Homo sapiens: one gene and its partners. The protein of the gene in region 1 purifies or fractionates together with the protein of each later gene. This does not show direct contact. Each region holds a gene or a part of one and is shown on either strand. Other genes may lie near its edges.

Evidence for each region. The genes of interacting proteins can lie anywhere in the genome.
Region 2: the proteins of CLRN2 (region 1) and CA12 purify together in Homo sapiens (affinity purification with mass spectrometry; one large-scale study listed by BioGRID and IntAct). This does not show direct contact.
Region 3: the proteins of CLRN2 (region 1) and DIPK1A purify together in Homo sapiens (affinity purification with mass spectrometry; one large-scale study listed by BioGRID and IntAct). This does not show direct contact.
Region 4: the proteins of CLRN2 (region 1) and KLRG2 purify together in Homo sapiens (affinity purification with mass spectrometry; one large-scale study listed by BioGRID and IntAct). This does not show direct contact.

What each region holds. Positions count from the first base shown.
Region 1 is NC_000004.12:17,513,872-17,517,964, reverse strand, and holds the start of CLRN2 (clarin-2), read right to left. Parts: upstream 2,801-4,093; 5' UTR 2,699-2,800; coding exon 2,446-2,698; intron 1-2,445. UniProt on the Homo sapiens protein: Plays a key role to hearing function. Required for normal organization and maintenance of the stereocilia bundle and for mechano-electrical transduction.
Region 2 is NC_000015.10:63,343,847-63,347,346, forward strand, and holds part of CA12 (carbonic anhydrase 12 isoform 1 precursor), read right to left. Parts: intron 2,864-3,500; coding exon 2,684-2,863; intron 1,821-2,683; exon of another isoform or gene 1,774-1,820; coding exon 1,631-1,773; intron 565-1,630; exon of another isoform or gene 292-564; intron 1-291. UniProt on the Homo sapiens protein: Reversible hydration of carbon dioxide.
Region 3 is NC_000001.11:92,954,963-92,958,462, forward strand, and holds part of DIPK1A (divergent protein kinase domain 1A), read right to left. Parts: intron 1-3,500.
Region 4 is NC_000007.14:139,473,674-139,477,173, forward strand, and holds part of KLRG2 (killer cell lectin-like receptor subfamily G member 2), read right to left. Parts: intron 139-3,500; coding exon of another isoform or gene 97-138; exon of another isoform or gene 1-96.

The DNA of each region.
Region 1 (4,093 bases):
ACTGTGCTAGAATTAAAAGCTGTAAATCTAAAGGAGACTAGACTGGCACTATCAGTGTCCCTGAGCTGTACTGGGGTAAAGCCAGCCAAGCACAGGAGGAACCTGGCCCCAGGCTCCTCGTGAATGCTTTGAAAGAGAATCACATCCAAGGTACTGCGAATGGATGTTTACAGACCCTCCTCTGAGACAACCCCAGGGCAGCAGGAAACAAAACCTTCTCAAATACGCTCCTACTCAGGGACAAGAATAAAATGTCCTTTATGCTTCTCACAGGGTTCTGATGCTTTCCAGACCAGACCACGTTAGATGAACCCAGGGGAATGTTTCCCATTGGTGTCCTTCTAAGAAGGAAGAAGGAGGAAGGCAAGAAGTACTTACTGAGTTCCTCCAAGGCTCAAACAAAATATGCATTTGTTTGCAGCTTCCTACTCGAAGCAGTTTACATTTCTGTGAGCTGGGAATGGCAGGGGTCTGGTCATTAGGTTAATGCTGGCATGTGACTGCTGTTTAATCTTCTCACCCCATTCAAGTTTCAACGATTTACCTGTTGGGGTTCAGAAACCAACACCCCTAAAATATGAAGCTTTGTGAAGAAGTCTCAAGGTCTCTCTGGCCTCCCCTCTCCCTCGTGTCTCTCCATTCTTTGTCTGTCTCATAAGCACAGGATGAGGTTGTTCTCTGACATTCCCTTACCTGCCTACATCCAGACCTACCAAAGAAAAAGACCTCTGGTCCCTTCCCTGAGTGTTCATTAATTGTACCCATATCACAGGAAGAAAGACTAAAGTCTGTTAACACAGCTGGACAGACTTTTGTCACAAACCAATGTCTGCTCTGTGGGCTCAACAGACTTTGTCCCAGCTCACTGTATGTTCTTTAAGCCCATTGAATTTCCCTAAAAATAATTTACTAGTCCCCTAAAATCATCCACACTTCCCCATCTCTCTTTCCCCTAAGATGAAGAGGATACAACCACCTGTACCCCATTGAGATAGCGGACAATCACTCTGTGATTTTTCCCCTATGCATGCTAATAAATGTGTAAGCCATTTTCCCTATTAATCTGCCTTTTGTCAGTAGATTGTTTAGAGAACCTTCAGAGTGCAAAGGGGAAGTTTTCTTGACCCCTAAAGTCCCGAAGACATCCTTTATAGCAAAGCATCTAGTTCAGAATCGAGTAGTCCATGTAGTTGTCATGGTTAGCTTTTAGCATTTCTTTTTTTTATTTGTTTATGTGTGTGTGTTTTCAAGTTTTATGTTATAATTTTGATGGAGCTATTTGTTCAATATCCAGGGTCTAATCTAATTGCTAGGTAAATATAAATATGCCCAGACATATTGATCTTGAATATACATAACAAATGTAAATTTTTGTGTGTTTAAATGATGACAATTTGTATTATATTTGTCAACGGTTCCAGCTTTTTGTCCTTATAAATTTAATACGACATTTACCTTGGCCAGATTTCTATAAACTACTACAATACTGAAATATAGAAATCAAGGAATGAATACAATTCTGTATCACCCTACATTGGCATGGTATTGATTAATTACGGTTTTGTGCAGACACTTTTCACCAGTGATCTCATCGATTCAAAAGGCTTGCAGAATATTGCCTGTTTTGTTTTTTCCTTTCCAGAAGCCCGTTCCTAAGTCCAGCTTGGATTCCTGTTTGTGCAGACTGCTCTGCTTACATCCTGGGCAGCTCTGATGCTACACTGAATGCCAGCCAAAGTCGGTGCCCGCTCACGTTCACAGAGAACAGGCAAGTGCCTTGCTTGAGGTCTCCCCACCAGTAAACTTTCCAGTAGGGGTTTCAGCCAGGGTAGTCTGATTCCAGAACCCAAGCACAGTGCCCCTTTGCATTTTCTCAGACTATGAAGCTTTTACAAAAGTAGATGTGGAAAGGGTCATCATGCTTCCCAAAGGTTCAGTTCTGCAGGCAGCCTCCACCCACTTGTTGTGGTCATGTGGCATGGGTCTGGAGTCCGGCTCTACTGTTTCCTGGCTGGGTGACCTCAGGTAAGTTATGTAACCTCTCCAAGCCTCAGTGTACTCCTCTGGAAAATGGGAACATTAACAATTCCTTCTGTATAACTTTGTTGTAAGGCTTTAAGGAGACAAGTGGCGTGAGGTGCTTACAATGTCTGACACGTGTAAACTCTCAATATTTTAATAGTCATAATTAATAGAGGTAAACTGCAAAAATGCACAAATCCTTATTTCTAATGTTTCTATACATCTCTACAGAAAAAGAAAAGGAAGCAAGGAAGGAAGGAAAGATCTTTTTGATGTGGATCCAGAACCCTTGGCTCACTGTGGACTTTGACATTATGCCTGACGTTGAGGCAGCAGCCAAATTCCACAATGAGACATAAGCACTCTTACACATTAACAAAAATGAGTGCCTAGAATCAGCTTTCATGCTCCCAATATACTCACTCGTGAATTGGGATTGGCGGCCCCCAAGCCCACACTGCCGCACTTTACACCCTCGGAAGAGCCCGTAGTAAATGTCCCCAATGAACTTGACCAGCTCTCTGTCTGTGGCGTTGACCAGATCCACTCCAGTCTGACAAAGGATTTTCCCACTCAGCCAGTGGGGCACTACCAGGGCAACGATGATCAGGATGAAGGAGGAGAAGCTGAGTAAAGACGCCAGCCCATACCACGCCTTTTTGAACCATCCAGGCATGCTAGTGGGTGCAGGTCATCCCCAAGGTCTCCGAGCAGCAGCGAGGGTCATTGACATCTTTCAGATACTCGGCAATGCTCTGCTCCAAGGTCAGCTCTTCCAAACACTCTGTTTCAAGGTTGTAGGTCCATCCTCTCGTCCTCCTTCAGCGCAAGCTTGCACAGTCCATGCTTCCTACAACCACATCCAGAAGCCTCTACAGAGACAATCTTCACCTGACTATGTAGCGGAGTGTGTTACTGAAGGAAGTAACCTTATATCTCCTCCTAGACTAATGTTTCAGCAGACTGTTTAACTGTTCCTCGTTTCAAGTATTTAAATAGCCCTGGTGTGGACCTCGTAATGATAAAGGAGTTAGTAATAAGCAAAATCAGGTAGCTCTGAAGATTAAGAGACGCAAACCAATCTCAAAAAATGCATGTGTTAGAAGGAAAACAAAAACAGAATGATTAGCACTTGAATATTGCCAACAATGCGCAGTATCAAATGTCGATCTCGCTGATGCATGGGTGCCCTGGCATTTCTTTCTCTGAAATGTCACTGCTGTCAGAATCTTTAGGACTGTTATTAATACCATCAAATGACCCCGGTTCTTGGGGCTTTAATATTGAAATGTGTAAATAGGGCCTTATGAATTTCTCACTGTGTGAATCTGCTGGGGGTAAACTGTGACTAGAATTACTTTGTGGCTGTTGGGGTAGCCTGGAATCCAACACTTAACATTGCTCTCACCCGTCCCTCCTTCTACGTTATCTGAAATGGGAGAGAAAAGTGTTTTTCTAGTGTATTAGCAAATAGTAGCCACACTGCTGGGGTATTCATCTCTTCTAATAGTGGAAGATCTAGGCTTTCCTTTTAATCTGTAGATACTAGGAATGAAATATTCTTTCCTTTCTATCTTATACTGTGGACTTTGACATTTTGACTTTTACCTTATTCCTGAATATCAACTTAACATCATGTGAGACTGGCAACAGTCACTCTATCCATATCTCTGGGGAGCAAAGTTGGGCAAAAGTGGAGCAGTAAAATTTCTTAGTTGGTCACAGAAGCCTGAAGGGGGGTTCAGGAAGTTGCACTGTTAACCAATAGGGGTCCCAGGAATCTCACTTGGAGAGTGTCAAGGAAGCAGAGGGACACATTAATGGAAATGTCAGTTTCCTTCCTCGCAACTGGGGCTCACTTCAGTGGCCACTCCACAATGAAAATAAAAATGAGAATTTCTGAGCCTGGGCAATGTAGTGAGACCTTATCTCTACAAAAAATAAAAAAAAAAAATAGTTGGGCCTGATGGCGTGTATTTGTAGTCCCAGCTACTGGAGGCTGAGGCTGGAAGACTGCTCCAGCCCAGGAGCTCAAGGCTGTAGTGAGCTATGATCATGCCACTCTGAGTAA
Region 2 (3,500 bases), on another chromosome or scaffold:
GCCAAAGAGAAAAGTCAAGCTGGGAGCTGCCTCCCATTCTATTCCTAAATAAGACGGCTACAAAGATAAAAAAGCAACACACCTCACATTTTGCCCACTAGGAAATTCACTGTGGGCCGCAAGGTCTTTACCCTAAAACAGTTCTGTTGAATTTCACCGTGACAATGTAAATGGATAACTTATCTTCATGGGTTCAGGACAAAGGATAGAACTCAAAGTCATCCCTCTGCTCACCTGAGACAAATGCATTTCTAATTGCTTCCTCTGCCCATGTCTGTTTTATTTTGTAAGAATGCAGATTCGCTGAGCTAGATGAATGCACAAGTGACTATTCCTCTACCCCTCTCTCACATGTGAACGGCTGATCAAAAACTCAGAAGAATGCGACCTCTTGCCTCTTACCTCCCCACACCTTTTAAACATTTCTCCCTCTTTCCCCAGTGTCTGCCCTTTCCCCTTTAAATATTGAAGCCCTCAAAATCATCTTTGTAGAAAGGCACAGACTTGTCTCCCTGTCTCCCGGGCATGTGTCCTTAACCTTGGCAAAATAAACTTCTAAATGGATTGAGTCTCAGACACTTTTTGGTTTACACCTTCTTTATTCCCCATGGGGGAAGCAGAAGTCTCAACACTGCAATTAGCCTGGAGGAAATTTCAGTTCTTGAGCTTCAGGGAAGGGCCGCTCTGAAATATGTGAACCTCCAGTGGTACCATCCTATTGAACCAGATCCTATCCCTTCCATGCTTGCAAGTAGACCTATGATTAGTCTGAAACATTAAGCAGTTCAGCAGTTATGACTGGAGGGGAATGGTCTCTATTTACCACGGACTCCCCTGGCTGATCAGTCAGCAGCATTTATCTGCTTGTATTTCCCTGTAAATATTCAGAGCCACACCCCCAGTTCAGGGCTATTGGAGTGCCAAAATGGAGCATCTCAACCCCCTCCTTGCCCCACCCCATCCTGCAATTGCATAGGACAAATGCTCTGCCCGTCTTCTAATTTTCTTTTGGCATTTCGGAGTAGCTTCTCAAGGCAACATGACACGATGCTGTGCTGGCTGACATCTTGTCCCTAGTGAGTCTGCTTGCCGTGATGCCCTGCACATTAGACTGCCAGGTACCCCTAGACTTGTGGCCAGGTAGAAGGGTGGCCCTAGACCCATGTCCCCATGTTCTAAACACAACCCATGCCCAGAGAGGGAAAGATAGCATCAAAATGATGCAAACAGCATGACATATGAAGAAAGGCTGAGAAGTTTGGGGGAGCAGTGAGCCCAGTGTGAGTCAGCAGGAGATTTTTATCTGCACAGATAGGAAGGCAATGTCTAAAAGAAGGGCATGTATGTCCCACTGGGCCACCCTGGGAATACTGCCTCCCCAGCAGCATCACTCAGTAAAAGACACAGGGACAAACTTAGCATGTTCAGGAGAAGAAAGGGACCAGGACAGTGCAGATGAGCTACAGGCTAGTGGAGTGGCTGCGCCCCTTGTGCCAGGGCCAGAGGTGGGGCAGAGAGCCTGAAGGCAGCCTGTCCCATGCTCTGGTGTTATCTGCACAGCAGCCAGGTCGAGAAGGTGCCACACCACCCACTGCAGAGCAGCCTCTGCCAGACTGGCAGCCCTACTTACCTCGGCGGCGAAGTGCTGTCCGCTGACGGTGTGCTCAGAGCCGTGCGGGTCATTCGGGTTCCCCCAGTGCAGGTGCAGCTGCGTGGCACTGTAGCGAGACTGGAGGCCCTGGATGTGCATGTCCGAGGGCAGGTTCAGCTTCACTGCGGGGAGTGGAGGAGCAGCCTTCAGAGCCCCGGCCAGCTGTGCACTGCCAGAGAGCAGTCAGGTAGGCAATGCTCCCTCCACCCCTGCTGCCACCCCCTGGAGCCCAGAGAGAGGCAGGTGGATGGAGTGAGGTGCGGAGCAGAGATGCAGCCTAAAGGTCAGACACCTGGGCTCTTTCCCTGAGAATGTTCCCTTTTCCCCAAAGCAACTCCAGTGGCACCAGCACCTTCTTGGTTCACCTTGGAAAGTGATGCCAGAAACGCTAACACTAGACCAACGGATGGGTGTTTATTTACATATTGATGGATCAGACACCTTTAGTGAAGTACCTTCCAAGCTTTAGAATTATATAGCAACAGCAACGATAACTGCTATTTATGAAGCATTTACTTCACTCTGTATGCCAGACCCCAACGTACATAATCTCCAGTCTTCACGGTATCCATCAATATGTCCATTTCCAGATGGAAGCTCAAGGAGACTAAAATTCTCACCTAGATTCTCATGGCTCGTAAGCAGTCAAGCCAGAGTTCAAATCCAGGTTGGTCTGACTCCAAAGCCTGGGCACCCCCCGCCAAACTGTGTGGTTCCTTGAATCGTTTATGGTCCAGAATTCACTCCAGCTGCACAGCCAATGAACTACAGTGCTCAGGCCGGTCTCCTGCCCCATCCTGAGAGATGTGCTTCTTCTGGGAAGTGCGGCCCTGGCAGGATCCTCAGAGCCCAGAGCCTCCAGCATCCCCTGGAGAGAGTGCTCCTGGAATCTCTCAAAGACACCCCCGCCCCGCCCCACCCCTCCTCCTGGATGCTTCCACGGAACACCTCCCTGCCAGATGGAAAAGGACAGGCCTGGCAGCTGAGGGAGACTCAGACATACCCCTCAGGTCTCCAAGGCCTCTCCCTCACCTGAATGGCCATTGTTGGTCAGGAGAAACTGCTTGTTGGCAGACAGATTGTAGCCTTGGAACTCGAGGGGCGTGAGGCTGGCGTCATACTGGAGGATGTCACTGTGCAGGTCTATGGGGGACTGCAGCAGGCCCCCACACGACGGGTACTTCTTGGACCAGCTATTCTCCCCATCAGGACCTGGACACAGAGATCCATGCTCAAGATTTAGAGTTTCTCACAAAGGGATTTTCCTTATCTTCTAATTCTCTGTTCAATACAATTACTCCTTTTCTCCTCTTTTCTGAATCCCCGGAGGTAAATCTTCAAGGCTCAGAGTCTTGGCCTCCAGAATCAGGTCCAGCAACCACTCAGGACCACCTGCTCTTAAGTGATGTGGGGAAAGAAGGACTAGGGCTGCACAGGCCAGAGCCAGAAGGCCACCGAACTCTGCTTTATTTTGTACATTGTTCCTGTTTGACACACACGTCAAGACCTGTTGACTTTCAGCAATTCAGCATCTGCTTAGCCAGTACCTATTATGAGCCAGGAATTACTCTGGGTCTTGGGGCTGCCAGGTTGAATACAATAGAGCCCCTGCTCATCCAAGCTGGCATTCTAGCGGGGAAGAATTTAGCAAATCTGCGGGGCCACCCCAGGTGGGAAAAATTAGTGTCTTACTGACCACAGTGCCAAGTATTATCTTGGTGCAAAAATAATTGCGGTTTTTGCCATTCCTTTCAGGCAAAAACCACAACTGCTTTTGCACCAACCTAAATAGGTCTTTGTGGCTGCTGGCTTTGCAAGTATGACCTTCCTGAAGAGAAACCCCTGAGGA
Region 3 (3,500 bases), on another chromosome or scaffold:
AAACTGTGGTACACCCAGACAACGAAATATTATTCAGCGTTAAAAAGAAATGAGCTATTAAGCCATGAAAAGCCATAGAGGAGACGTAAATGCATATTACTAAGTGAAAGAAGCCTATTTGAAAAGGCTACCTAAAATACTACGTGATTCCAACTAGATGACATTTTAGAAAAAGGCAAAACTATGGAGACAATAAAGACCAGTGGCTTTTGGGGGCTCAGTGGGGACAGAAGGATAAATAAGCAGAGCACAGATTTTTAAGGCAGTGAAACTACACTCTATACAATAATGATGGATACATGTCATTATGCATTTATCCAAACACACTGAATGTACAACACAAAGAATGAACTCTAATGTAAAACTATGGACTTTGGGTGATAATACGTCAGTGTAAGTTCATTAACTGTAAAACATGTACCATTATGTGGGGGATGTTAAATATAGGGGAGGGGGCTGGGCACGGTGGCTCACGCCTGTAATCCCAGCACTTTGGGAGGCCAAGGCAGGCAGATCACGAGGTCAGGAGATCGAGACCATCCTGGCTAACACAGTGAAGCCCCGTCTCTGCTAAAAACACAAAAAATTAGCCAGGAGTGGTGGCGGGCACCTGTAGTCCCAGCTACTTGGGAGGCTGAGGCAGGAGAATGGCATGAACCTGGGAGGCAAAGCTTGCAGTGAGCTGAGATCGCACCACTGCACTACAGCCTGGGTGACAGAGTGAGACTCTGTCTCAAAAAAAAAAAAAAAGAAAAGAAAAGAAAGAAAAAAGAAAAAAAAATGAAAATAGGGGAGGGGCCAGGCACAGTGGTTAATTCCTATAATTCCAGCACTTTGGGAGGCCAAGGCAGGAGGATCACTTGAGCCCAAGAATTCAAGACCAGCCTGGGCAATGCAGTGGGACCACTGTCTCTTAAAAAAATATTTAAATTAGCTGGACTTGGTGGGATGTGCCTGTAGCTACTCAGGAGGCTGAAGCAGTAGGATCACTTGAGTATGGGAGGTAGAGGCTGCAGTGAGCCATGATTGTGTCACTGAACTCCAGCCTGGGTGACAGAGGGAGATCCTGTATCAAGAAGAGAAAAGAAAAGAAGAAAAGGGGAAAAAAAAGAAAAGAAAAGGAGGGAGGCTATTCATGTGTCAGGACAAGGGGTATATGGGAAATCTCTCTGCATTCCTCTCAATTTTGCTGTGAACTTAAAATGGCTCTAAAAACTTTTAAATCTTTAACTTAAAAAAAAAATCTGAGGCACTGAGAAGACTACAGTGAAGAAACACTTTTACTGTATGGTCCAGTTTGAAAGAAATGTGGTAAGGATGCAATCTGCCTGAGAATTCACCATTTCTTTGAGCTTCTAACAAAGGTTCAAAAGCAACTAATGGTAATATCAAGTGGCTCTCTGTACACATACCAGTCTCAGAAAGCTAATCATAGTTCTGGAGATTAAATTTCAGGCAAAGGCAAAAGCTAATCTCTGAACAGCAGGTCTAATAAAGTTAATGAGAACTATACAAACTACAGATCTTCTCCCTCTATTGTCTTTGGAGGATAGAGAACAACCATAGGCTCTAATTATCCTTAGATTTAAAATAATCCTGGAGACTGAAAATGGGCAAAAAGCCCATTTTTACTACAGTATTTGGCAACATTACTACTATTACCAATTAATCTGTATCAGTAACCCTGTCTGGCACTAAATCTCACAAAATATCCACATTAACTCATAAGGAACCAAACCATCCACAGCAGTCATGTTTGAAAAATTGTACTAATACGAGCCAAAGTGCCAGGTATCAGAAATGTTAAACAAGTGCAAACACCCTAGCTAGAACATGCCATCTACCCATTCACTCATAACAACCCTACTGAACACATACTGAAATTGCTAGGGCAGTCATTTTCAAGAGGATACTTCTAAAACTTTAAGCCCCTTACAAGCAAAACGGCTTGAAAACCTTCAAAGGACCCAAGTACATGGGACTTCAAATTCCATTAGAACTGCACCAACTTTTCATATGCAACAGAACACATAGGCAGAATGATTGGAATGGAAAATGTGTATAATCTAAGTACAGAGAATTATGCTGAATTGTCTTGACTTTCATTCTTTCAGGACTTAACGATGGTGAGAAGGAAGAAGGTATTTTAAACCAAAACCAACAAATTATAGGGTTGCTGTGTTATCAGCTTCACTCAGACTATGAGTAAACCCTAAACAAAGTAGATCTTAGTTTGTAGAAAACACACTGCTAAAAAAAGACAAATGCAGGTGTCATTCTGGGTTATCACACCCAAGCAGGCCACAAGTAGTATGCACCATAATGGCACGTGGAAGAAAATACTGCCTAAAAATGGTTTAAGCAGTTAATACATCCACAGTTTCTGATCTCAGAGGCAGGATTCTACTCTGTTCAATGTGCTGCATCATTTAGCCAGTCCAGGAAGTGTTATTTCCCAAGTAATGTTTCAACAAAATATCTGGAAAACATGGAACTGTAAATTAGCTTGCTTGCTCTGGGCAAGATGCCTTGCCATGAGAAGCTTGTTGCTCAGGTAAACGTCTGTTGGCCCTTCCAGGCAGGTCACAAGTCCTTCTAGCCCACAGAGAGGCTGCACAGACTAACAGTGTGCCTGCCCAGCTCCCCTGGAAGAAGTGCTCCCTGCACCAAAAAGCTGACCTTGGTGGAATCTGCAGCAAAAGGCAGAGAGAAGAAGGACGACTTTCATGAGATAAACTCGGTTCATTTATTTTTCAACTGTTTTATGGAGATATACTAATAATTCACATATCCTACAATTTATTCATTTAAAGCATAACGTTCAGTAGGTTTTAGTATATTCACATACTTGGGCAACCATCACCACTATCAATTTTAGAACATTTCTGTCCCCCTCAAGAACACTTCATATCCATCAGTAGTTACTCCCCATTTCCCCCCAGGCAACCACTAATCTATCTTTTTGTCTTTATAGATTTGCCCATTCTGGACATCTCATATGAATGAAATAATACGTGATCTTTTGTGACTAGTTTCATATATTTAATGTTTTTAAGGTTCATCCATGTTACAGTGTGTATCAGAACTTCATTTCACTTTATTGCTGAATAATATTCTGTTGTATGCATATACCACACAAGTTCTTTTCTTCACAGGCAGTAGAATCTCTTCTGCTATATAAGCAAAGCTATAAACAGTGAATAGGTGCCTGCATTAGCTCATGAATGTCTATTATGGCTGAAAATATATCATTAATTGTGTAATGCCACAGTTTTCCAAAAGCGTTACCAAATGCCACAGTGATATCTGGATTAATAAAAATACTGAGAATGAAGTTCCTTTACAAGTAAGCTGACTGCTTAAAAGTTTTCTCCTGTACACTGCAGAAAAAAGGGAACTCACAGCTCCTAAGGCCTGAACACCTCAGGACATAACTGGTCTTTGACCCCATCCAGTTAAAGACAAACAGCATAACTGCAAGTATACAAAGCTGGTCTCTG
Region 4 (3,500 bases), on another chromosome or scaffold:
ATAAGAAAAGATGGCATCAGCCAGGTACAGTGGCTCACACCTGTAATCCTAGCACTTTGGGAGGCAGAGGTGGGCAGATCACCCGAGGTCAGGAGTTCAAGACCGAAAAGATGGCATCCATGAAACAAGAACAGGACACTGTAAAAAAGGAACATTTGAAAGGTCAAAACAGTTCTAAAAATTAGAAACAAGGCAGCAAAAATGTAAATGAAGAAGAAAAAGGCCCACAGGGCATATTATTAAATTTCGGAACACTGAGAACAAAGAAGACACTGAAATTTTCCAGAGAAGAAATAAAAATGAATGACATACAAAGAACTGGGAATCAGAGTGGCTCAGACTTTTTTTTTTTTTTTTTTTTGGAGACCTAGTCTCACTCTGTCACCCAGGCTGGAGTGCAAGTGGCACAATCTTGGCTCTGCCACCTCCACCTCCTGGGTTCAAGCAATTCTAGTACCTCAGCCTCCCGAGTAGCTGGGACTACAGTTGTGTGCCACCATGCCTAGCTAAATTTTTGTGTGTGTGTATTTTTAGTAGAGATAGGGTATCACCATGTTGCGTAGGCTGATCTCGAACTCCTGACCTCAAGTGATCCATCTGCCTTGGCCTCCCAATGTGCTGGGATTACAGGCATGAGCCACTGTGCCCCACCTTGGCTCAGACTTCTTAATGGCAAGACTAAGAGCTGACAGTCACGGAGAATTCTGGGGAAAAGCGATTTTCTACCTAGAATTCTATACCCAGATGTGATATTATGATATCTATGTCTCTATCTCCATATCTCTATCTAAAATAATGTTTTTGGCTGGGCATGGTGGCTAACACTTGTAATCCCAGAACTTTGGGAGGCTGAGGCAGGTGGATCATTTGAGGTCAGGAGTTTGAGACCAGCCTGGCCAACATGGTGAAACCCCATCTTTACTAAAAATACAAAAAAATTAGCTGGGCATGTTGGCACACGCCTGTAATTCCAACTACTTGGGAGGCTGAGGCAGGAGAATTGCTTGAATCCAGGAGGTGGAGGTTGCAGTGAGCTGAGATCGCCCCACTGCACTCCAGCCTGGGCGACAGAGTGAAACTTTGTCTCAAAAAAATAAATAAATAAAACAAAATAAAATAAAATAAATGTCTTGTCCACAGTTCCTGGCTTATAACTCCCATAGCCCTTGACACAGGATTTGTTATAATGCTGTGGTGCTCCAGGCCTCAGATGCAGGCCCAGACCTAGGAAATAGAATCTCTCTCTCTGACCTTCTGCCCAAGGCAGGACTCTAATCTGCTGTGGGTCATAAGACCCTATTCTAGGGAGGGTCCTGGCCCATCTCTGAAGGAAGGAATGCTGCAGAGACAGGCCAAGAAGAATTGGAGCAGACAGGCCTCGCTGGGTTTCCTGCCTAGTCTATTAGTATGAGATCAAATCCTTTCTGCCCAATCAAATCTTGACACAGTTGTCCCTGCTTTAGTCATGCCTGTCCAACGAAGTCTCCACAAAAGGCCCAACAGGACAGGGTTTGGGGGCTTCCGGATAGGCTGAACACATAGAGGCTAACAGGAAGGTGAGTGAGAACTTGTCCCAGGCTGGGCGCGGTGGCTCACGCCTGTAATCTCAGCACTTTAGGAGGCCGAGGCAGGCGGATCACGAGGTCAGGAGATCGAGACCATCCTGGCTAACATGGTGAAACCCCGTCTCTACTAAAAATACAAAAAATTAGCCAGGCGTGGTGGCGGGCGCCTGTAGTCCCAGCTACTTGGGAGGCTGAGGCAGGAGAATGGCGTGAAACTGGGAGGTGGAGGTTGCAGTGAGACGAGATTGCACCTCTGCACTCCAGCCTGGGTGACAGCGCAAGACTCTATCTCAAAAAAAAAAAAAAGAACTCGTCCCCGTGCTGGGGGGGTGGCGGCACACCCCACCCAGCTCTATAAGGACAGAATCTCCTGTGCTTGGGACTCTTCCAGATCTCACCCTGTGCATCTCCTTTGGCTGTGTGTTTGTATCATTTAAAATACCCTTTGTAACAAACCAGTAAATGTGTTTCCCTAAGTTTTGTGAGCTGCTCTAGCAAATTAATCAAACCCAAAGAGGGAACGTGGGAGTCCAAACTTGAAGCCAGCCACTCAGAAGTTCCAGAGGCCTGGACTTGCGACGGGCGTCTGAAGCTGGGCAGCCTTAGGGACTGAACCCTCAAACTGTGGGATCTGAAGCTATCTCCGGGAAAACAGCATCAGAATTGAATTAAATTACAGGACACCCAGCTGGTGCCCACTGCTTCGTGGGTAAGAGAAAAAAAAAAAACACATTTGGTCACAGACGCTTTCTGGGTTGATTGTTGTTGTGTAAGAGCAGAGGAAAGACAGTTTGAGTGTTTTTCCTACACACCAGCCAAGTGATTGTTAGCTTGGAGGTTAGAATAAAAGTTCTTTAAGCACGAAAGGTCTCAAGAAATTGAGGCCAGGCACGGTGGCTCATGTCTGTAATCCCAGCACTTAGGGAGGCTGAGGCAGGCGGATCGCCTGAGTCCAGGAGTTTGAGACAAGCCTGGGCAAGGTGGCAAAACTCTGACTCCACTGAGGAGACTGAGGTGAAACCAACGAAAAGACATGCGACCTAGGAAACAGGGAATCCCACGGAGGAGGGAGGCAAAAGGCATACTGAGGATGCAGGTAAATAGAAATTCCAGAACAGCTGTGCAGCAGGCCTGGTGAGCAACAGGTCCAGACTGGAACAGAGAAGAGAGGATTCCAGAAGGCTCTCTGGCCCGGTGTCACTATCTTTTTTTTTTTTCCTTGAGACAGAGTCTCACTCTGTTACCCAGGCTGGAGAGCAGTGGCGCGATCTTGGCTCACTGCATCCTGTCTTCTGGGTTCAAGCGATTCCCATGCCTCAGCCTCCCAAGTAGTGGGGACTACAGGTGCATGCCACCATGCCTGGCTAATTTTTGTATTTTTAGTAGAGACGGGGTTTCACCAGGTTGGCCAGGCTGGTCTTGAACTCCCGACTGCAGGTGATCCTCCTGCCTCCTCAGGCTCCCAAAGTGCTGGGATTACAGGTGTGATCCACTGCACCCGGCCTCACTATCTTTTCTTGAATGTTTTTGGAAAGGCACATGCTGCCTTGCTCACCTTGACCTTCAGGTCACACCCTCCTGTCATTTACTCTCGTAGCACTGTGCACCGTCCCTTCACAGCACAGATCAGTGTGGTCATTAAACATCTATTTCTGTGATTTCCTGATTGACGTCTGCCTCACTCACTGCTGTCTTAGCTTTGTCAAGGTGGGGGCTGTGCTATTCTGGCTCATTATTGAATCCCCCTTGCCAAACACGGAGTAAGTGCTTAATACACACTCATTAAAGCACTGACGGAAGGAGTGCTGCGTTTTCATACATACCAGAACAGCGAATATAAATTCCTGGCACCTGCCCCCAGGTAAAATTAAGCCAAGGATTGCTGGGAATGTAAAATTGCACAGCCCCTATGGAAAACAGTATGGCAATTCCTCA